3 linked regions of the Homo sapiens genome follow. The protein of the gene in region 2 binds, or shares a complex with, the protein of the main gene of each other region. Each region holds a gene or a part of one and is shown on either strand. Other genes may lie near its edges. A codon is read from its position in the direction of its gene.

Region 1 (7,105 bases), on a different chromosome or scaffold from region 2:
GGGGGGAGGAGGGTAAAGTATGATTTTTTTAAAAAAATATTTTTCCATCTTGTACCAGAAGTATAGTGTGATACAACAATCACGAAATAAACCTGAAGCACATCATCGTTAATCACCAAGGAATGGAGTTTGATACAGACCTCCCTCTGTGCCAGCTTCTGTTTGTCAGTTTGTTTGACTTTGGGACTATTTGCTAGGAGGTGGCGAAGTTTCACATAACTCTTCCACAGTTTTTGGTACCTAAGGAAAAGGACAGGCAAACATCTCAGGTAAAGAGGAGGTAAACCTAAAATGCAACAAAACCAGTTATTTTAAGAGGCCTCTTCAAATCATACATTACATTCTTTTGATTATTCTTAATGGCAGAAAGCCATCATTCTAAGGAAGGCTATGACTTTGAGGCTGAGAGTCAGGATGGACAAGAGTCAACTGGAACCTGGTGATTAAGTTGATTATTGCTTATTTCAGTTGGAAATGAGGTGTGACTATATGAATGAATCTCTGGAAAGAATTCCAAAGACACAAAAACACCTCAACCAAAGGAATCATCCTGTTTCTCACTGTTACCTCTTGAAAATAACAGATTTTATTTAAATATACACTTTCTGATATTTGTTGAAAGAAAGACCCCTTCCTTAGGGAGACTGTCAGTTGCTGAACTACTTATACCAAATATAAGTTGAAGAGTATTAGAATAGAGAACCCCATTTGTGCCAAAACCCAAGCTACATAGCTGTATCCATTTGTCCACTGGAGAGGATAAAAGACTAATGGTGTATACCAATTTGTATTTACCATGACAATATAAGCATATTTGTTGCAGCCAAATAAGTGATAACCTAGACCAGTCTAAAGGATACTGTCAAAGCGTCCTGGAAATGAAGCGAATATGCAGTCCTTTATCAATTCACAGTCCTGCCATCTGAGAGTCCACGAGAGCCTCATCACATTCTACTAACATTTTTCTGACAAGAAGGGATTTTCCAAAGATTTTCTGTCACATTAAAACTGTTCCTTTCTTGGCCTTAGCTGGGCCTCTCCTTTTTTGAAAACTTTTTTTTTTTTTTTTAAGAGAATGGAGGAAAGAAAGAAGTACTTACACAGTGCCTGGTTCACTGCTTCATACTTTTATCCAAAGGGGGAAAAAAAAGAACAAAACCCTTTAGCCTCTTCTAATATATGTCAGCCAGAACTGTATTTATGAATTGAAAATCTCCCATGCCCTTTTCTCCCACTATGAATCCTTTTTAAAAAAAAAAAAAAAATAAGTCAGGAAGCTGTTTGTGTGTTTAGCAAGGTAGGAAATCCAAACAGTCCCGAAGAATCTAATGGTACTATCTCCATTCCCACACATCCTAAATCTTCTCCCAGAAAACACTAACATGCCAGTTGGAAAAATCAAAACGTGGAAAGTTACATCAATCCTAAGAGTCAGAAGTCACGGCTCCTACTTCCAACACAACCTTGACTTTGCATGTGATCTTGAACTCTTAAGATGCCCCCAAAAAGAGAACTCTGCATAAATTCGGCAGTGCTAGGAACCAATATGTGCTACTTTCCTCTAGAGGGCACTGAAAAAATAAAAAATAATAATTATTATTATAAGGATGAATAAAGAAAAAGTTCCTTAAAGTTTAAAAACATACAAGGACTTATGTTGACCAAGTTTGCCAAAAATATTCTATTGAATAATAGTTTCTTGCACTCAAATATGTACAGAAAATAATTCTTCAGGAGCTACCACAATTGTTTCATTTGGGTAATCTAAATTGGAAGTATGGCTCATTTCAGGTCTTAATTTTTAAAAAGGAAACATCCACTAAAGGGTATTTCTCTGCTAATTTGGCTGTTAGTAGAAGGTGAAATTGGCTAAGACAAACACTGAGAAATATCTTACTGTGGGTCTCCTGCATAACTCAACTGTGCAGGGCGTATCCCAAAGTGGACGATAATCGGAAAAGTAATCACATCGGGGTTGAACTGTTCACGATCCAGTTGATCGATACGGACAGAGCTTGGTTTCTAGAGAGAAAAATCAAAGCCATTTATTCCCATAAGAAGTCTTTATGTATTGACTTTAACCTAAGTAGGGAAGGAATAAATCGGACTTTTTTCCAGGAAAGCCTTGTCCCCAAAGGGAAAAGGTCATTTAAAACCCTTTAATTACAGCAGCTATACTATCTAAAAACTATAATGTCATCCTTGTAAATGAGCCTATGCCATTTGGCATAATGAACAATGATTTTGTCCTTTTTTGCAGTCCACATAGAAACCTTTAAAAATTAAACTTTTAAAAGGACACCTAGTCAGATATAACTTTTCCTTAACCTCTCTGAAGGCACAGGGGAAGGATTCCACATCACAGGCAGAGCCTCTTCTGCTTTAATTTCACATTTCAGAATGCACAGATGCCTCTATTTAAGTTTTTTCCCTCACTTGTTCTCAGTGGATCTTATGTATTCCTTTAATTCTACATCTTTAAGTTAGAAAGTATAGTGGTGCAAAGGCCAAATAGTTAAGCTTCTTTTATTATGTCCATGTAGGACATTTGTGTATTTTAACAGAGAGCCTCATATTTTTTTCTTCATGTCTAATAAAGGAAGAAGTGAATGGCTCATTCCTTCTGGATCATTTGTGAAATGGCTTTCATCTTGAAAGCTTAAATTTATGAAAAGATGGTAAAATCACAGAGAACAGGTTTCAGCAACCTCCTTCCTTATAATCACCTCTCAGGACAGTCTCAATTAGAGATTCAGTTTTCACTAGCACACTGTAGAGTCTGCGGCTCAGTTGCTTTGGAGGCTAAGGCTGTTAAAACTGATTCACACAGAGGCCAATAATCTTCATTCTGTCCCACAACAATGCCCAACAATTAGAGTCTGGTTGGCTGCCTGGTTTCCCTGGGACAGAGGAATTTCAATGCTAAAACCAGGAAATCTCTCAGCAACTGGGACAAACTGGTCACTCTACCTACAACTGTGATACCAGCCAGCCATCTGACAAATATTCAATGAGGTGACAAAAGGGATAAACTTGGGTGAATTCACCCACATTACTTAAAACACTCAAACCTTTGGGAGGCCAAGGCGGGTGGATCACGAGGTCAGGAGTTCGAGACCAGCCTGGCCAACATAGTGAAACCCCATCTCTACTAAAAATACAAAAATTAGCCGGGCGTGGTGGCGCACACCTGTAGTCCCAGCTACTCAGGGGGCTGAGGCAGGAGAATCACTTGAACCCGGGAGGCGGAGGTTGTAGTGAGCTGAGATCGCACCACTGTGCTCCAGCCTGGGCAACAGAGTGAGACTCTGTCTCAAAAAACAAAACAAAACAAAAAAAAAACCCCTCAAACTTTTTAAGTGTCATTTAACAAACAAAATGTCACTAGCTTCTTGAAAAGTTGGTCTCTGCTCTCAAAATTTGAAAATGGAAAATATTTTGTTCACATGTAATCCATTATAAAATTATTTAAATGCCCATCAACAGTAGCAACGTGCTATTTAAGGTCAAAGAATTACTTTCATTATTTTGTACAACAAAACAGCAGGATACATTTTTAGAATGCGAACTGTGGAATAGAATGCTATTGAATTATTCATGTTTCTGTGATTTTAAACACCATGCCATGGTACCAACACAGGAAACAGTGATTTAAAATATCTATAGTATCTCTAAATTTATGGCAGGGGTTGAGGGAGCAGGAAATGAAATATATTCTAGACTTTGGCTACACCCTATAACATTTATTATGCCATCTTTGTTTAAGAATAAAAAATGACAAAAGTCACTAATGACAAAAGTATTCCTTGGAAGATTAATTCTTTTAAGTTCTGCAGCAATATAGTATTTAAAGTGACCATAATGGCTTGAAATTTTTAATAAATTTCCCAATATTCTTGCCATTTTGCAATCTTTCAAAGCAAGTCCTACAGAGGATGAAATGTAGTGTGGTGTCTACCTTGTCGTATGAGTAACTTGCACACTTCTCAGTAGGATGTTTTCATAATACTGAATTCTCAAGATTTTTTTCCTCCTTTAAGCATATCTTCAGATAAACAGTATAAAAGAATTAACTTCAACACATTCCTAAGCCTGACACTGAAACTTCCAATAAAAATCTTTCATACTGACTAGGTCTGACTTCATGTTGTTAATACTGGCTTTACAGCATCTCAAGGATGCACAGTTAATCATGCCAATAATTTCTACAATTTCTCAATTCCTCAGAGATCTTACTGTTTAGGAAGCACCCCTGGCAAGCCTATCCCAGTGATAGCTCCTAAAATGAGAGGCTTTCCTGATGCATCCATTGGCTCAACCATTCATCAAAGACTCCTTTCATATGTTAGTGGTCTTTGGGTTTTCACCTGGGCAAGCATCATACATTAGTTTGGTGCAAAAATAGTTGCGGTATGGCAGACCCCCGCAACTACTTTTGTGCCAGCCTAACATATAACTTCACTAGCACCTGGCTCATATAGTAGTCCCTTGACAAATTAGTTGAATGATGATCATGGTGATCATAAACTTCATCTATGCCACTGGCTCAAAAACAAGCAGTGAGAAAATCAAACGTTTGAGGATTTTTTTTTAACTACAGAAAACTGGGCCTCACTGCCTGGAGTATATAAGGTAGCTATATCCTTAAGCCAGGGTATCCTTAAGTTTTTTTTTAAACTCTCCAGCTGATTCTAGATTTCAGGAAAACGTAACTATACCATGGAAGGAAGTCCAGGGTGAACGTGCTCCCCCCGTGTCTACCACAGAACATGGAACTCTCCAAGTGGAACCACCCAGCTGAAACTGGACATCTGCCACCACCACCGCCCCATCCTCTGACTCAGCATGAAAAGTGACAGAGGGAATATCAATATATGCAACTGTTTTAAGAATAAAAATAGAATTCACAGTCTTACTCTGAGAGTGTTATTACTTACATATTTCTTTTAAAGTTACTTTAATAATTATGTGGCTTAACAGTATAACAGTAAAAATTATACGATTTTCTGGTTTTAAACATGTTTTATGTTTAAACATATTTTTATTAAACAATTTTACTTTCTGGATTTGTTTAAAAGAATCCATACTAGCCAGAATGTTTTATTTGCAAATAGCAACATTTTGTTTGTGCAGATGTTACTGTCATGCTACAAAAAGTAGATCCAGAGTTTTTAGTTTATGAATCAAAGCTATTAAGCAATTGGCAGCTTTTTGGAAAACAACAGCTTTGTTAAGTAGATTATTCCATTTATTTTCACGGAAATATTTTAATTCTTCATTTCTATAAAATTTTATCCTTATAAGATGCCAACATATAACTATTTTATGAAACAGTAACACTAATTTAGAAGAAAAAAATTGATATAAAGAAAATGTTATGTCTTTATATAAGAACTAGTTTTCTTTTAATTATATCCTTTTAATGTTTGCATTTTTTACTTCTAAAATTGAATATTAAAAGCTAATTTTAAAACAAAAAACTTAAGTAGCACCCAAAGAAATGTAAAATATTTATAATAATTATGGCGGAGGATCAATAAAAAAGAAGGCTACAAAAAAGATCAAAGGATATTAACAAGCAATTAACAAAAGAAAACATGAATGGGCAATAAACATTTAGAAATCAAAATAAATACAAAACTGAACTAAGACATTTCCCGCCCCCCAACTCTCATCAAATTCCCTTAGTATAACCAGCATGAAGATATGGTTGCTCTCATATGCTCCCAGAGTACAAATTTTACAGCCCTTCTGGAAAGCAATCTGCAACATGCGTCAAAAGCCTTAAAAATGTACCTATCTTCAGGTAGAATAAATTTACTAAATTAGGTGAATTTACGACCAAATATGCCTAAATTGTAATATTTTCTTATTTACTAAATATTTAAAGGAAAAATTATCCAAGGACAAGAGCAGTGACTACCTAAAACTTTTAAAATGTGCTGTTACTGTTTTCATGAAACATTCAGATCTGGAAAAGAAGGTCCTCCAGCCTCTGAATATACAGACACCAGAACATACCGTCCCAGGGTTGGTAACAATCATGCCTTTGCATTCTTCTGCATATTTCTGCCACTCCAGCTCCTCCCACTGAAGCATATTGGCAATCTCCTCCTCAGGCACCAGGGCTTTGCTGCACCTTAACAAGTACAGGAGAATCTGGTGCATGGACAGCACTTCCTTTCCTCCATCTTGGGTGGGAATGGGAGTGGAGAGAAGGGGAAAAATAAGGCTACTCAACTTACAGCAAATCAACAACTGAATAAGGAAAAAAACAAGACAATGGAGGAAAAAGAGCACATACAAAAAGGTAATGTAAAATTTACACTGTTTAACCAGGTGCCAAATAATATGAAAGCCATTTGTTTCATTGATGAACAGTGCTCATAAACCATCTCATTTACTAAATTGGCAACAACAACATTATAAATGATAAAAGGCTCCATTTGTGAGGTATGAATATAAAAAAGGTGCCTATCTAAATAAATTTAAAGCCACCTAGCATAAATAACCATAGTTTATAATATACAGAACCATGTTAGGTCTTAAATATTTTATCATTCTTTCTGAGGTAACAGATGAAAGCTCTTTAGAAGTGATGTTACTGTCTTAAGGAAATTCTAAGCTTTTGTGAGATATTTATGGATGTCTTCAATAAGCTGTTGTTGCATTATGGTCTAATTTTTTGGTGCTAATGTGCTGCACCTGCCATGATGAACAGAGCTAAAGAGCCTGTGCTAATATCATGGAAGATCATTATGGAGTTAGTACATGGAAAAAAAACCAAGTGCTCTGAGGCCTACAGAAGCATATAGCACCAAGTACAGGGGATAAAAATAACAAAGGGCATCATTCAAGTACCTTGGAAAAAGCCAATTAATCTAGTATTTGATGAACTAAAGACATCCACTTCATTTGGGCATTAATGTGGGGTCCACAGGCTTCTGCCTTCTCTTTGGACTTAACTTCTGGACCAACATGGGCAACCATTTTATATCTCTTTTCTTTGCCTACACCCAACCAAACAAAGGACAAGAGCCCTGAAGAGGACAATCATTACCCTCTCCCAGGTTATGAGATAGGCTATGAACAGTAGTACAGGACC
Region 2 (8,095 bases):
CTCCGTCTCAAAAATAAAAAGTAAAATAATAATAATAATAATAAAAGGTAAACAGAAATCTTCATAATCTCAAATACTGTAAGAAAACTTTGTCATTTCAACAGAGAAGATCAAGTTAAAGTTCTGCATCATAGCACTACTAATAAAGCTAATTTTAACAAAACCTTATAAATGAATCCATCCAATCTCATGCAAGATAATATTTCTTTTCCAAGATTTCTTTTCTATAGATCTTTTACAACTTAAAAAAAATATCTGGCCGGGCACGGTGGCTCATGCCTGTAATCCCAGCACTTTGGGAGGCCGAGGCGGGTGGATCATGAGGTGAGGAGATCGAGACCAGCCTGGCTAACACGGTGAAACCCTGTCTCTACTAAAAATATAAAAAATTAGCCAGGTATGGTGGCGGGCAGCTGTAGTTCCAGCTACTCGGGAGGCTGAGGCAGGAGCATGGCGTGAACCCGGGAGGCAGAGGTTTCAGTGAGTCGAGATCTTGCCACTGCACTCCAGCCTGGGTGACACAGAGAGATGCCATCTCAAAAAAAAAAAATCTATCAGTACTTTTTTTCCCCTACATTTTTTTTCTTTCTCATTCTGGAACAACCAGTTGCTATATATATTAGCACAGAGTCAGTTATTCCTTTAAGGGATTTTATAAATTAATTTGGTGCTACTATCTGGAGGTAGAAAAATATCATGTATATATAACATACAAACATACATATGTAGTTGCTCTGCAACTGAAGTTGGCAGAGGCCAGACCCAGTGGCTCACGCCTGTAATCCCAGCACTTTGGGAGGCCAAGGCAGGCAGATCACTTAAGGCCAGGAGTTTGAGACCAGTCTTGCCAACATGGTGAAACCTGGTCTCTACAAAAATACAAAAAAATCAGCTGGGCGTAGTGGCGTGCGCTTATAGTCCCAGCTACCTTGGAGACTGAGGCAGGAGAATAGCTTGAACCCAGGAGGTGGAGGCTGCAGTGAGCCGAGACTGCGCCACTGCACTCCAGCCTGGGTGACCCAGTGAGTCTCTGTCTTAAATAAATACATAAATAAATAAACAAACAAATAAATAAAGTTGGCAGAGTATATAGTCTGAAGGGGTTTGAGGAAAGGGGATTCAGGTGACTGAGAAGTTCCGATGGGAGAAGTAGGATCCAATAGAGAGAACAGAGAGGCCTCACAGTGGGAAGAAAAGACTGCCAGCCCAGGAGTCAGGGAGTGAATCCCCATTCAGAATGAAGAGCCACAAGGAAGACCTTCCAACCCAGGAAGTATTATACCTTTCAAAAGAAGGCTGGGACCTTAAAAATCAAAATCTGTCCTTACCAGCTAAAATAAAAGTTTTTCTACAGTCATGGCTCAGGAGTTTGACTCACCAGTAGATCCCCAATCAGCCAGTCAGAAGACAAAGGCTGCAAAGTTGCACATTGAGAGTCCTGGGTCAGAGGCCTGTGGCACCACAACCATTAAAGAAAAAAATTATTCAGCCCTTGTCAAAGCACGGTCGGGAAGGCCTTATTCAGGAGCATTGCCACTGGCATATGGACCACAGGCAATGGGGTTTTGCTGCAGGGGAGAGATTGGGCTGAACTCTGAATACAGCATGGACAAGTGTGAACTGATAGCCAAGGAGCAGGGCGGGGGTCAGTGGATGAAAAATTACTAAGAAGAAACATAAGTGATAAGGGGGATACTGGCTAAGCTGACCTAAGAGGATTCTTGCTGAAGACAGGCTGGGGTGATCAGACATCACCTAGAGGATGGTGGAGGGATGAGGAATTTCATCAGTATTGAGGGCGATCAGATATCAAAAGCAGGGTGGTTCTTGCTAAACTGGAATTCTCAGACGGGCCTAGAAGATTTAGGAGCCTGACTAAAGTTTGGCCAAGCAAATAATCTTTTGTCAATACAACAACACGATACTTTTTACTGTTTGTTTTTTTTTTTTTTTTTTTTTTTTTTTTTTTTGAGACAGAGTCTCCTGCTGTCTCCCAGGCTGGAGTGCAGTGGCGCGATCTCAGCTCACTGCAACCTTTGCATCCCGGGTTCAAGCAATTCTCCTGCCTCAGCCTCCCAAGTAGCTGCAACTACAGGTGCGTGCCACCATGCCCGGCTAATGTTTTTGTATTTTTAGTAGAGACGGGGTTTCACCCTGTTAGCCAGGATGGTCTCGATCTCCTGACCTCGTGATCTGCCTGCCTCAGCCTCCCAAAGTGCTGGGATTACAGGCGTGAGCCACCGCGCCAGGCCAATACAATAGTATTAACTAATCTACAGACCTTGTTTGAATTATATCAATTGTCCCATTAATGTCCCTTTTCTGAGCCAGGATCCCATCTATCGTCTGGATTCCACACTGCATTTTGTTATCTCTTTTAATTGAAGATGGCTCCTCAGTCCATCTTTGACTTGAATGATCTCGATACTTGAAAAGCACTGGCTGGTAATTTTGCAGAATGCCCCTAATTTGGGGTTTGTCTGCTCTTCATTCAGATTCTGCCTTTTGGGCAAAAATACCCACAAGTGAACTTGTGTTCTTCTCAGGAGGTCCACAGTATGTCCTCTTACTGGAACTAACTTTTTTCATTTCTATTGAGGCAGAATTTATATACAATGCAATACACATGTTTAAATGGTACAATTTGCTAAGTTTGCTGGTGACCTTGATGGCTTGGTTAAAGGTGGTGTCGCCCAAGTTTTCTTCCACTCTAAAACTACTATTTTCCCTAGGCAATTAGTATCCTGGGGGAGAAACTTTGCAACACTGAAAACAAAACAAAACCTGTTTGTCATGTTTTTGCCCACTATTTTTTTTTTTTTTTGAGATGGAGTCTCACTCTGTCACCCAGGCTGGAGTGCAGTGGCGTGATCCCGGCTCACCACAACCTCTGCCTCCCAGGTTCAAGTGATTCTCCTGCCTTGGCCTCCCGAGTAGCTGGGACTACAGGCACGTGCCACCATGCCCAGCTAATTTTTTTTGTAGTTTTAGTAGAGACGAGGTTTCACCATCTTGGCCAGGATGGTCTTGATCTCTTGACCTCGTGACCCACCCGCCTCGGCCTCCCAAAGTGCTGGGATTACAGGCGTAAGCCACTGTGCCTGGCCTAATTTTTTTGTAGGGGGTTGGGGGCCGGGGACCGAGTCTCGTTCTGTTGCCCATGCTGGAGTGCAGTGGCTGGATCTTGGCTCACTGCAACTCCTGCCTCCCAGGTTCAAGCAATTCTCCAGCTTCAGCCTCCGTAGCTGGGACAACAGGCACCTGCCACCAAGCCCTGCTATTTTTTTTTGTATTTATAGTAGAGACAGGGTTTCACCATGTTGGTCAGGCTGGTCTCGAACTCCTAACCTCAAGTGATCCGCCCGCCTCGGCCTCCCAAAGTGCTGGGATTACACGCATGAGCCACTGTGCCTGGCCTTGCTCACTATTTTTTCTGGAGACGGTCTCGTTCTGTCACCCAGGTTGGAGTGCAGTGGCCCGATCTCAGATCATTGCAACCTCCACCTCCCGGGTTCAAGCGATTCTCCTGCCTCAGCCTCCCGAGTAGCTGGGATTACAGGTGCCTGCTACCACGCCTGGCTACTTTTTGTATTTTCAGTAGAGATAAGGTTTCGCCACGTTGCCCAAGCTGGTGTGGAACTCTTGAGCTCAGGTGATCCGCCTGCTTCGGCCTCCCAAAGTACTGGGGTTACAGGCGTGAGCCACAGGGCCCGGCCCACTATTTTTATCACTCAAGATTTTCGTCTACAGCAGCTATTATTGGGGTGGCTACCCAGTGGAAAATTTTTCTATTTCCACTATTCCTTCCACATTTATTGACAGGAAAGCTAGTCTAAGGAAGAGCTGTACCCTCACTTACTCAGACCCTCGTTTTCCTTTTTTTTTTTTTTTTTTTTGAGACGGAGTCTCACTCTGCCGCCCAGGCTAGAGTGAAAGTGGTGCTATCTCGGATCACTGCAGCCTGGAACTCCTGGACTCAGGTGATCCTTCCACCTCAGCCTCCCGAGTAGCTCGGACCACAGGCGCCCGCCACCACGCGGCTAATTAAAAATAATTTTGGGCCCGGCGCGGTGGCTCATGCCTGTAATCCCAGCACTTTGGGAGGCCGAGGCGGGCAGATCAATTGAGGCCAGGAGTTTGATACCAGCCTGGCCAACATGGTGAAACCCCGTCTCTACCAAAAATATAAAAATTAGCCGGGCGTGGTGGTGGGCGCCTGTAATCCCAGTTACTCGGGTGGGTGAGCCAGGAGAATCGCTTGAATCCGGGAGGCAAAGGTTGCAGTGAGCTGAGATCGCGCCACTGCACCCCAGCCTGGGAGACAAAGCGAGACACCGCCTCAAAAAAAAAAAAAAAAAGAAAGAAAATTTGTAGATACTGGGCTCTCACTATGTTAGCCAGGCTGGTCTCGAACTCCTGGGCTCAAGTAATCCTCCTGACTCGACCTCCCAAAACTCTGGGATTACAGGCGCAAGCCACCGTGCCCGGCCGAACCACCGTGCCCGGCCGAACCCTCCCTGTTTTGGAAATCCTGTATTAGCAAAGGGGACAGCGCCAGACAGTTGAGCACACGCGTTCTTTATAAATGATGATGTCTGATACAGTGATGCTTTTAACAGGGTTGTGTAACGCCTGTGTGTGCACGGTCTCTTCTGCAGTGTCCACCGAAGGTGGCCCGTCTGCGTGTCCGCTCCCGGCGTACTCCGCGCTCCCTGTTCCCGGCATTCCCCGCGCTCCCCGAGCTTCCCGCGCTCCCCTGCTCCCGGCATTCCCGGTGCTTCCCGTTCCCGGCGCTCCTCGCGGCCGCCGCCCTCAGTCCAGCGAGCCCCGCCTGGGCAGCGACTGTTAGCGCGACCGCGGCCTGGGCGCCTGGTCCCTCCCGCGCGGCCGCGCTATTGGGCCGCGCGCGGCGGACACACGCGCTACGCGCCGCCGATTGGCGGCCTCCGCAGCGCGCTCTGCGGCTCCCCCAATGCGGGGCGGCCGCGCGCGGGGATTGGCCGCACGCCGCGAAGGCCCGCCCTCCGCTCGCCCGGCGCGGCAGGCGGGTGCCGGCGACCGGAGAGCCTGGACAGGCTTTCCAGATGGCTGCGGCGGTCGGTCGGTGAGGCTTTCCCGGCTGTGGTTTGGCTGCGGGCGGCTTGGGCAGCCCGCGGGCGCCTCAGGTAGGTGCGGGGCGCGAGGGGCGCCCGCGGGCGGTTGGGCGGGCGCCGCGGCCTGCGCGAGGGCGCGCCCTTCCCTCCCGCCTCCCTCCGGGACCGAGGCCGCGGGCGGGGCGGGGGCGCGGAGCCCGGCCTTTGTGAGGCAACATGGCCGCGGGCGGTGGAGAGCGCGGGGTGGGGACGCCTCCGGGGCTGGGGGGCGGGCCCCGGGCCCAGGCGTTGCCGACTCTCGTCGCTGTCCGCCCGGGTAAAGAGGCTCCTCTCCCGGAGGGCCCGAAGCCTAGCATCGCCTTCAGGCGGGAAAGGTGTGGACAGGGCCAGTGCTCGCCTGGGACCCTGCCGGCTTTAACACAGTTTGGGAAATCCAAGAAGTCGCCTAAGTCTTTTTGTCCACAGAATGCTCACGGGTTGAGTGTCACGTAGATAATTGGGATACGGTTTTATTGTAACAATGAGCATGGCGGAAATAAATGGAAGGTGGCAACCTGTTGACAGTGATGCCTGTCTGGTGTCAACCGATGGACTTGGGTTTCTTGTGGCAGGAGTCTGATTTGCCTTTTTGCATGCTTGCATGTACCTTGTTCCTGCACGGCAGTCCTGTCTTTGGCTGTCGACTGTTCGAGGCCAACCACCAGGCGAGGATCCACTGTTTCCTGGCCAGACTAGACTCCCAGCTGTGGGAGTGGCCCAAACCCTGCTGCAGGCCTTCACTCACAAAAGGGAGTGAATGGCCAGCCCGGGGTACCCAGTGTTGCCTCTAAGTGCGGGATATGAGGCCTGTTGGAGGATGACAAAAGGAACGGATGAGGTCATACTGCCGCTGGGTTGGGCGGGAGGCTGCAGCGGGAGAGACTTGACCAAAAGGCAGCCTCCATGGCGCTGGCACTGGTGCTGGCCCGTCACAGCCAGTGCCTCTGTTAGCCAACACAGCAAGTGGGCTAGGAGGAAGGGTGCTGTCCAAGTGTACGGGTTTTCTCCCCGTGCCAAGGGTCCAGGGGAGCTTGCCGTGAGCCCGTTCCTGTCCGATAGTCCTGTTGGCAAGGCAGGGTTTGCATGCGGTGTTTGGTCAGCTGGAGCAGTGGGGAGGCCTACGGGCAGAGAGCTCCCCTTTGAGCCCTTTGCGGCCAGGCGCTGTGTGGAGCACTTCCCAGGGGTTGTTTTGTAGTCTCACCGTGACCTTGGGGTAGGAAATGTGCTTCTGGCTGGCTTGCCCAGTCTTAGACTCTCTTGTTGTAGCCCTCTCCTTTGTGATGTCACCCAGCCTCCTGACTTTAATGCCAGCTTTCCTTGACATCTTCACAGCTCCAGCCCTGGCCTCTCTTCTGATTTCCAGCCTGGTGTTTCTGGCCACCTCTTCCATATCTCCATGTGTTACTTTGGCGCCAAGTAGCCATATCCAAACCAAACTCAAATCTTCACCCATGCCAAAACATTCCTTGGCCTATCTAAAGTCCCTTTGATTCCTCTCTTTCTTACACCTTCATGCAGTCCTAAGGAGGCCCCGTCAGCTCACCTATTTCTAAGCACAGACCATTTCTCACCACCTTCAAGTTAACATCCTGGCCCAGCCTACCTGGTGAGCCTCTAATTCTCTTTACTGTCACCTTAGGTCCTCACTCCCCATCCACCATCTATAGTTTTTCTGGACACAGAGTGATTCTTCTTTCTTTCTTTTTTTTTTTTTTTGTTTTTTTGAGACAGAATCTCGCTCTGTCGCCCAGACTGGAGTGCAGTGGCGTGATCTCAGCTCACTGCAACTTCTGCCTCCCGGGTTCAAGCGATTCTCCTGCCTCAGCCTCCCAAGTAGCTGGGACTGCAGGCGTCCACCACCACCACGCCCGGCTGATTTTTGTATTTTTAGTAGAGACGGGGTTTCACCATGTTGGCCAGGCTGGTCTCGAACTCCTGGCCTCAAATGATCTGCCTGCCTCAGCCTTCCAGAGCGCTGGGATTACAGGCGTGAGCCACTGTGCCTGGCCACAGAGTGATTCTTTTTATTTTTTTGAGACAGAGTCTCGCTTTGTTGCTCAGGCTGGAGTGCAGTGGTGCGATCTCCCGCTCACTGTAAGCTTCGCCTCCTGGGTTCAAGCCATTCTCCTGCCTCAGCCTCCCGAGTAGCTGGGACTATAGGCGCCCACCACCACACTCGGCTAATTTTTTGTATTTTTAATAGAGACGGGGTTTCAATGTGTTAGCCAGGGTGGTGTCGATCTCCTGACCTTGTGGTCCGCCTGCCTCAGCCTCCCAAAGTGCTGGGATTACAGTCGTGCACCACCGCGCCCGGCCCAGAGTGGTTCTTTTAAACCATAAGATGGTATAAAACAGAGGCGGTGTAGATGCAAGCCAGCTTGCCTGCTTGTAAAGCAGCTCCATCACTTCCTGGCTGTATGACCTTGAGCATGTGGGTGAACCTTTCTTCCATAATGCTATGTGAGACCTGGGTGAGTTAAAATGCTTAAAGTGCTTAGAACAGGGCCTGGCTGAGGTTTGGTTGCCACTGCTATCCTGGAATCAGCTGATGCCACTGTGTGGGCCTTCCTATCCGGTGGCCCATCTCTCTCACTAAGAGCCAAAGTCCTGGCAGCAGCCTGGGAGGACCAGCCCTGATCCATCTGCCCTCATGGACTTGGCCCACTGTCACGTCCCCTCAGCACACTGCCCCAGCTGGCCACACCACATTCCTGACCCCAGCCCTCTGCTTTTCCTCTCAGTGTCACCTGGAACATCCCCTCCTCCCAGCCCTGTAACCCACCTGGCTCACTCCTGCCTTCACGTGGATGCAGGCCATGAGGCCTTCTTGGATCCCCCTTCCTAAAACTGCCTCCCCTTCTTCAGGCGCTTTCCTTGTTTTGTTTTTGCTTGAATACTTCTTGGCATGTGACAGGGTGCATGCTTTTCTTAGTTGTTAGCGGTCCATCTCCCCCACTAAAATG
Region 3 (7,105 bases), on a different chromosome or scaffold from region 2:
AAAAGGAGAGTATTATTGAATAAAAACTAAATAGATAATATACTCTATAGCTAATTATAATTAGTAATGTGGGCTTGCTATTAATGATTTTGCTCATTATCTTTTTTATTATATTTAAGTACTTATATCCTTGTTCATGTGCTAATGCTTTATGTGTATTATTTCAAATAAACCTCACAATTCTATGAAGAGGCACTCTTAACTCTGTTTGACAGGTGTGGTTCAGGGAATGGCGTCGTTTGTCCTCGGTTTGACAGGGGCAGAGTTGGAACTAAAGTCTGTCTGAATCCATAGTCTAGGATTTTTTGTTTGTTTGTTTGTTTGAGACAGAGTCTTGCTCTGTCACCCGGGCTGGAGTGCAGTGGCCGATCTCGGCTCACTGCAATCTCCACCTCCCAGGTTCATGCCATTCTCCTGCTTCAGCCTCCCGAGTAGCTGGGGCTACAGGTGCCTGCCACCATGCCTGGCTAATTTTTTGTATTTTTTTAGTAGAGACAGGGTTTCACTGTGTTGGCCAGGATGGTCTCTATCTCCTGACCTCGTGATCCGCCCGCCTTGGCCTCCCAAAGTGCTGGGATTACAGGCGTGAGCCACTGTGCCCGGCCTAGTCTAGGATCTTAAATATACATTAGGATAATCTCTTTCCTTGTTGCCAATTTTTTTTTTTTTTTTGCTCTGTGGCTTTAGGAAGAATTACTGAAAAACCTGTTAAGACCCACAGTGTTATTTGTTTGAGCCATCAGATGGCAAGTCTTTAAAGCCCCTTAGCTCCAGTGGTTTGAAGTAATCATTTTATTATTAAGACACAAAATAGTTACATCAACATTGTGGTGAATTTCTCAGCTGCCCAGACTGGAGTGCAGTGATGCAATCACGGCTCACTGCAGCCAAGTGATTCTCCCACCTCAGCTTCCCAGGTAGCTGGGACCACAAGCACACGCCATCACGCCTGGCTAATTTTTTAATTTTTGTAGAGATGAGGTCTCCCTGTGTTGCCCAGGCAGGCTGGTCTTAAACTGTGGGGCTCAAGTGATGCTCCTGCCTCAGCCTCCCAAAGAGCTGGGATTACAGGCGTAAGCCACTACACCTGACCTGGTGAATTTATAAAATAAAAAAGTATTTGCTAGTGGCAATAATCAAAAGCCATCAATCTATCATCTTTTCCCCAGCCCAACTTTATTAAAGTAAATATGATATCAACATATAGCACAGCTCATAAGCACTGCTCATATCTAGAAGTGTATGCGATTGTAAGATTTTGCTTTTTTTCCTATCCTTTCTTAGGTGTTTGTAAAATGTATGAAGAACATCTGAAAAGAATGAATCCCAACAGTCCCTCTATCACATATGACATCAGTCAGTTGTTTGATTTCATCGATGATCTGGCAGACCTCAGCTGCCTGGTGTAAGTATTAGCCAACATGTCTTTTATCTTGTATTTTCTATTGCTTTTCTGTCTGTTTGAGGTGATTTATGGTATTGGGAGCTAATTATGTGCCTGATACTGATCTTTGCATTTGCATAGTGTATAGTAATTAATATTTCTCTTACAGAAATAAGAGATTGGCAACATAAAGCCAAAGGCACAGAAAAAAATAACTTTGCTAATTGATATAGTTAGTATCCAGAAAGGATCCTAATTCAGAAGTTCCATGTGCCTCTTCTTTGTTCCTTATACCTAATTTTTTTTTTCCTTTACAGTCTTTGTCTTAAAGCCATTGGTTTTGGATTAAAACTAAGATTATCTTTTTTTCATGACATTTCAAAAACTTAAATATGCGTATAGCTGAAATTTAATTTCAATCCTACGCTGTGTAAGTACGTATATTTTGGTATGTTAGAGTGAGATTTTTTAACATATTTGTTATAGTTTGTATTGATAATCTGCTTCTGACAATTACTAACAAGGAGCATAAAGTGTTACTGTAGACTTACCTAATCTTTTTTACATTAGCGAACAGAAATTGAGTGTAAATACAGCTCATTTAACCGAGGAAAATGGAAGCACCTTATGATACAATACTCAATCATCAGATACTTGAATATTTATTACATGTCAGGTGCTGTGCTAGAAGTTGAAAGAGCAGTGATGAGAAATATACAAGTCTTACTCATAGGCACTTCCTGGATCACCACTGGAGCCAATCATGGAATGTGGCTGCACCATGCTGTCTCCCCAAAAGTTCCAAAACACGCATTTCCTTGGGATGTTTGAGTTTTGTTTTCTGTACCTCTTCATTGTGTTCCGGTTGTAGCCATTTCACTTTGATCACTCAGAACATTCAAATGAATGTTGCATGGTACTTTAAGCCATTCAGACATCTATAGGAAAAACATACCAGACAGAGGGGATGAGGGACAGCTAGTGTAGAAGTCCTGAAGTAGGAGTGCCTAGCATGTTTGAAGTCATTAAGGAAGCCTTTGAGGCTGCAGAGGAATGAGTGAAGGAGAGTGTCTTAGGAGATTGGAGGAGCAGGGAGCAATGATATCCTGGAAGCCAAATGCAGAAGTGTGTCATATCATTGATAGGACAGATATGTGAGGACTGAGAATTTAATTGACCCCTGGATTTGACACTGTGGAAGTCTTTGGTGACTTCCAGAACGGTTGTGGTAGAGTGCCAGGAGTAAAATGCTTACAGATTTCAGTGTATGGAAGGGAATGAAAAGAGAGGATTTATAGGTGGCCATTACAGGCTTGCTTTTTTTTTTTTTTTCCTTTTTTTTATTTAAAGAATTTTGCTTGAAAGAACAGAAAAATGGGGTTGTAGCTGGAGAAAGAAATTGCTTTTTTTTAAGTGGGAAAAGTAATGGTAAGTTTGCAGGCTGATGGGATGATGTACCAGAGAAGGAGAAACTGATAGCTCAAATTGGCTCTTGGACAGTTCAATCATAAAAAAGGGAGGACAGGCAAATTTGGGAGCTGGGGGGAATTATCTTCTGTATGCTTCAGTTATCTCAGAAAGATAAGGAGCAAGGACATCATTTGAAACAGGTGTTACAGGTTTGTGGAAAAGTAAGAAATAAGCTAGGAAGGTGAAAGAATTAGGGAACTGCAATTAATTCAGGGATGCATTAAGTGTCCTCCAAAGTACCTATCTGATAGTGATTTAAAGTGAAATCAGTCATTGTGATCATGGGATTTTTTTCCTAGTCTCTCTCACCTGGATGGTTACAGGTGAGGAGTAGGTAGAGAGTAAAGATTTTGCTAAAGGTTGAGGGCATATATGAGGACAACAGCAACGACTGAATGACCATGAGCTTTAATTGGGGGTGTAGGAGGAGGTGCTGGAAACAGAGGTAGATCAGTTCATTGTAGGTCCCACTGGATCAAGGATTGCTCACATTAGAGTGTTAGGAAGTGGTGATCAGAGAATGACATGCTTGAAATTAGGAAATTGAAGTAGTTGGAAATGACAAGGTCTAGGGATCTGGCCAAGAGAGGGTAGGAGATGAGATCATTAGAGGAAAAGACTTCATGGAATTGGGAGGCCTAAGTGTTGACAGAATCATCCACTGGATATGAAATTACCAATAATGTGTATATTAATTGATAGAATTTAAGAAGAAGTTGCTTTGTGTTTGTTCACTGCTGCATCTCTGGTACATAATTAGTGCTGAGTAAATATTGGTTATATAAATGCACGTCACTTGTGTTGTTATTTGAGGAATAGCTTTCTAAAATTATTGATAATTTTCTATTTCCCTTATTTATATTACAGAGCTATATTCTGCATTGATTAAAAATTAATGGTTGTCTTTATGGTTTTATAAAAGAACCTTACTGAAACATTCAGGATGTAATCCTGACGCTTTTGGGATGTCATACTTACTCCCAGTAAGTGGGAAGTAAACTTGAAGCAAAGGATCATGTTTTACTTGTCTTGGGAGGCTGTGGTTAAGAGCTAGCTGGAGTGGCAGAATTAGACATAGCTGGGTTTGAATCCTGGGTCTACCATTTGCTAGCTCCCTTTGACAAGGCAGCTTTGTATTGCTAAACTTTAGTTTGCTAATTTGTAAAATTCAGACAAATCTAGTTCATAAGACTCCTTGTGAGGATCAAGTGCTTGCTGAGCACAGCATTATTAGATATGCAGCAACTCCCTTTTCAACTAGATTGAAGAAGTCAGGATAGAGTTTTATTTTTAATTACAAGCATGTTCTTAAATTTGCCAGGAGTAGAATGATATGAATTTTAATGTCTACGTGTGAGATAAATTATAAATTTCAAGGGAGATTTAAAAGGTGTTGAGGTTTTTTCAACAATATGAAAATTGAGCAGAGTAAAACAGTTACAAGTGACATGTTAATGATATACAAGTATGTCATTAATGACATAACATAACTTTTCTAACTTTGTACTAGACTTTATAAAAAAAAAATTTTAGAGACAGGGTCTTGCTATATTACCCAGGCTGGTCTCAAACTCCTGGGCTCAAGTGATCCTCCTTCCTCAGCCTCCCCAAGGAGTGATATTACAGGCATGAGCAACTGTGCCCGGCTGCATTAGACTTTAAAATGTAAACTAGAAACCATATCTAGCATACTAAACTGATTTTTAATACAATATTTGCTATATTAAAGCAACATAGGGGGAAAGCTTTAATTATTACCTAGATAATTCTTCCCACCTACAGTATTTCCAGAAATATAGAAGAGAGGTTAATGATAATTTATGGTTTTTTAGTAGTTTCAGAGTGTTAAAAACCGTAAATTATCATAGCTTGAAAACCTGTAACTATTTGTTTGTTTCTAATGTTGAAAATTTTTTGGCCTCTGAAAAACTTTCAGAATCAAATTTAGGATTTAAAACTATTTTCCCCAGGTGACTTTGGTTATGTCCTTTTTGTTCTTTGAATATTCAGGAGAAATAAGGTATTGTTTCCAAAGAGGTAACCCACTGCCACAGCACATCCTGTGATTTGGGCCGTTACTCCTCAGACCAGAGACTGGGTCCGTTTTTGGTTTGTAGATGGTTGTGTGCTCATAGTTTCTATTAAATTTACATGGCAGTGACCTAGGACTTTTTTAAATTAATTCTTTTTAAACAGCGTAGGTGGAAATGGAATAAATAAGATTCTACTTTGTAACATGACTAAACCCAGAGCAAACTGACCATGCATTAATAATAAAATGTAGGCATGAAAATTTGTATTTCGTATACTTAAAGTCAGAGTCAGATTTTTCCAGTTTTCTGATCTGTATGTTTTTTAAATAAGCTTTTTGTAAGATGAAAATAATGCCCTTTTGATTATGCAGTATTTTCTTGTTTGCTTAGAGACATAAAGAACATTTAAACTGTCAGTTATTATAATGACAAGAGGTATTCCTGATCAGTAAGAGAAGTTATCACTGAAGACATTTCTGATTTCACTGCCCAGACCCACAGCTTCTGTTCTTATATAAACCTACATTCATTGACCATAACAATAGGTTAAAAGATTCATCTGTGCCAATGACTAGGCATTTTATTAAAGTATTTAACATTTAATTGTCTCATTTTCAAGTGCCAGTTAACAGCCATCGACACACAGCTTTCCATAAAGAAGGCATTATTGCTTTTTTTTTTTTTTTCTTTTGGAGATAGAGTCTTGCACTGTCGCCAGGGTTCAAGCGATTCTCCTGCCTCAGCCTCCCGAGTAGCTGGGACTACAGGTGCGCGCCACCACGCCCAGCTAATTTTTGTATTTTTTTTTTTTGGTGGAGACGGGGTTTCACAATGTTGGTCAGGATGGTCTTGATCTCTTGACATTGTGGCCCGCCTGCCTCAGCCTCCCAAAGTGCTGGGATTACAGGCATGAGCCACTGGCACCTGGCCTACTATTTGATGAGTTGGAAAATTGCATGCAAGTTGATGGATTCCTTAATGTTCACAAACCAGAGTGATTTTTGTTGGGGGGAATGGTATAAACAAAGCCTGTCCCACCCAGATATGATAATTGTGAGAAATTTTGTTCCTTTTTAAGTTATTTTCCAGTGTTAATATAAATGTTATAGTCTCTTCTGCTACATTTTGCAGTAGACTAGCTTAGAGCTTATTTAATTAGGAAGCATGGACAAAGAGTTTTCAGAAAAAATTAAATTTTAGAATTTTTAAATTTGGTTAAGCATTTTTAAAAATGGGAATCTTGTACATTTTTAATAAACCAGATTGTGACCTTACTGTTCAGAGGAAGAATATGATGTTAATTGTATAAAGCATTCCTACTTTGGAATTTATTTCCCTTGCCAAAAATTGTAGTTTAGGTTTCTAACTTAGTGATTAACAGTGAGGACTCTGGAGTCAGGAGTATTTAAAATCTATCTCCAGTCCAGCATTACCTAGCTAATAACTTGCTTCACTTTTTAAAGCCTTGGTTTCTCATTTATGAAAAAGGAGGCCAGGTGCGGTGGCTCACGCCTGTAATCCCAGCACTTTGGGCGGCCGAGGCGGCTGGATCACTTGAGGGTCAGGAGTTCAAGACCAACCTGGCCAACATAGTGAAACCTGGTCTCTACTAAAAATACAAAACATTAGCTGGACGTGGTGGCACACACCTATAGTCTTACCTACTCAGGAGGCTGAGGCAGGAGAATCATGTGAACCCAGGTGGCAGAGGTTGCAGTGAGCCAAGATGGCACCACTGCACTCCAGACTGAGTTACAGAGTGAGATTCTGTCTCAAAAAAAAGCAGGGGTCGGTGGTGGGGGTGGTGGGAAGTGAGGATAATTGTACCTACTCACAGGGTTGTAAAAATGAGTTAATTCAGATAAGAATTTAAAGCGACACCCAGTACTCTGTGACATCTTACTAGATACTACTCACAGTCCCATTGGAGTTTTACTGCTAATGCTAGTCTGTGTACTCCTTTTCGTTCTGATTAGAGATATTTTGGAGCTTACTGTATCTTCTGATAATTCTTCTCCATAGGCCTCTAGCATTATTTATTTTAAAAAGCAAATCCTAAAATATAGGTTTAAGATTTCCTTAATACTTTACAGGGGGAAGGAAATTAGCAAGAAATCTTTGTTGCCAGTACATGTTTTTTAAAGGTTTTTTAGTTAATTCAGAATAAACATTGCAAATCTAAAGTTTGTTCTAGTATTGTTGTTTTTGTTTTTTTGAG

What was found.
Region 1: the proteins of DGCR8 (region 2) and DROSHA are in contact, whole or in part, in a crystal structure (PDB 5B16), measured with the Homo sapiens proteins. Residues at the interface, in NP_073557.3 of Homo sapiens: Asn728, Ile731, Leu732, Lys734, Leu735, Gln736, Glu738, Met739, Lys740, Leu742, Ala743, Arg746, Arg750; in NP_001369437.1 of Homo sapiens: Leu984, Leu987, Phe988, Thr998, Tyr999, Thr1001, Ala1002, Ile1003, Gln1005, His1008, Phe1069, Asp1073, Leu1074, Glu1076, Val1077, Trp1078, Asn1080, Pro1082.
Region 3: the proteins of DGCR8 (region 2) and ERH are in contact, whole or in part, in a crystal structure (PDB 7CNC), measured with the Homo sapiens proteins. Residues at the interface, in NP_073557.3 of Homo sapiens: Lys107, Phe108, Ser109, Pro110, Asp111, Leu112, Leu114, Leu115; in NP_004441.1 of Homo sapiens: Val8, Pro10, Thr11, Thr18, Tyr19, Ala20, Glu27, Lys34 (codon at 1,293), Met35 (codon at 1,296), His39 (codon at 1,308), Arg42 (codon at 1,317), Met43 (codon at 1,320), Phe60 (codon at 1,371), Leu64 (codon at 1,383).

Annotation. Positions count from the first base shown.
Region 1 is NC_000005.10:31,466,042-31,473,146, forward strand, and holds part of DROSHA (ribonuclease 3), read right to left. Parts: intron 6,192-7,105; coding exon 6,022-6,191; intron 2,023-6,021; coding exon 1,898-2,022; intron 241-1,897; coding exon 141-240; intron 1-140. UniProt on the Homo sapiens protein: Ribonuclease III double-stranded (ds) RNA-specific endoribonuclease that is involved in the initial step of microRNA (miRNA) biogenesis.
Region 2 is NC_000022.11:20,075,219-20,083,313, forward strand, and holds the start of DGCR8 (microprocessor complex subunit DGCR8), read left to right. Parts: upstream 1-5,022; 5' UTR 5,023-5,165; intron 5,166-6,456; exon of another isoform or gene 6,457-8,095.
Region 3 is NC_000014.9:69,381,263-69,388,367, reverse strand, and holds part of ERH (enhancer of rudimentary homolog), read left to right. Parts: intron 1-1,284; coding exon 1,285-1,405; intron 1,406-2,030; exon of another isoform or gene 2,031-2,322; intron 2,323-7,105. UniProt on the Homo sapiens protein: May have a role in the cell cycle.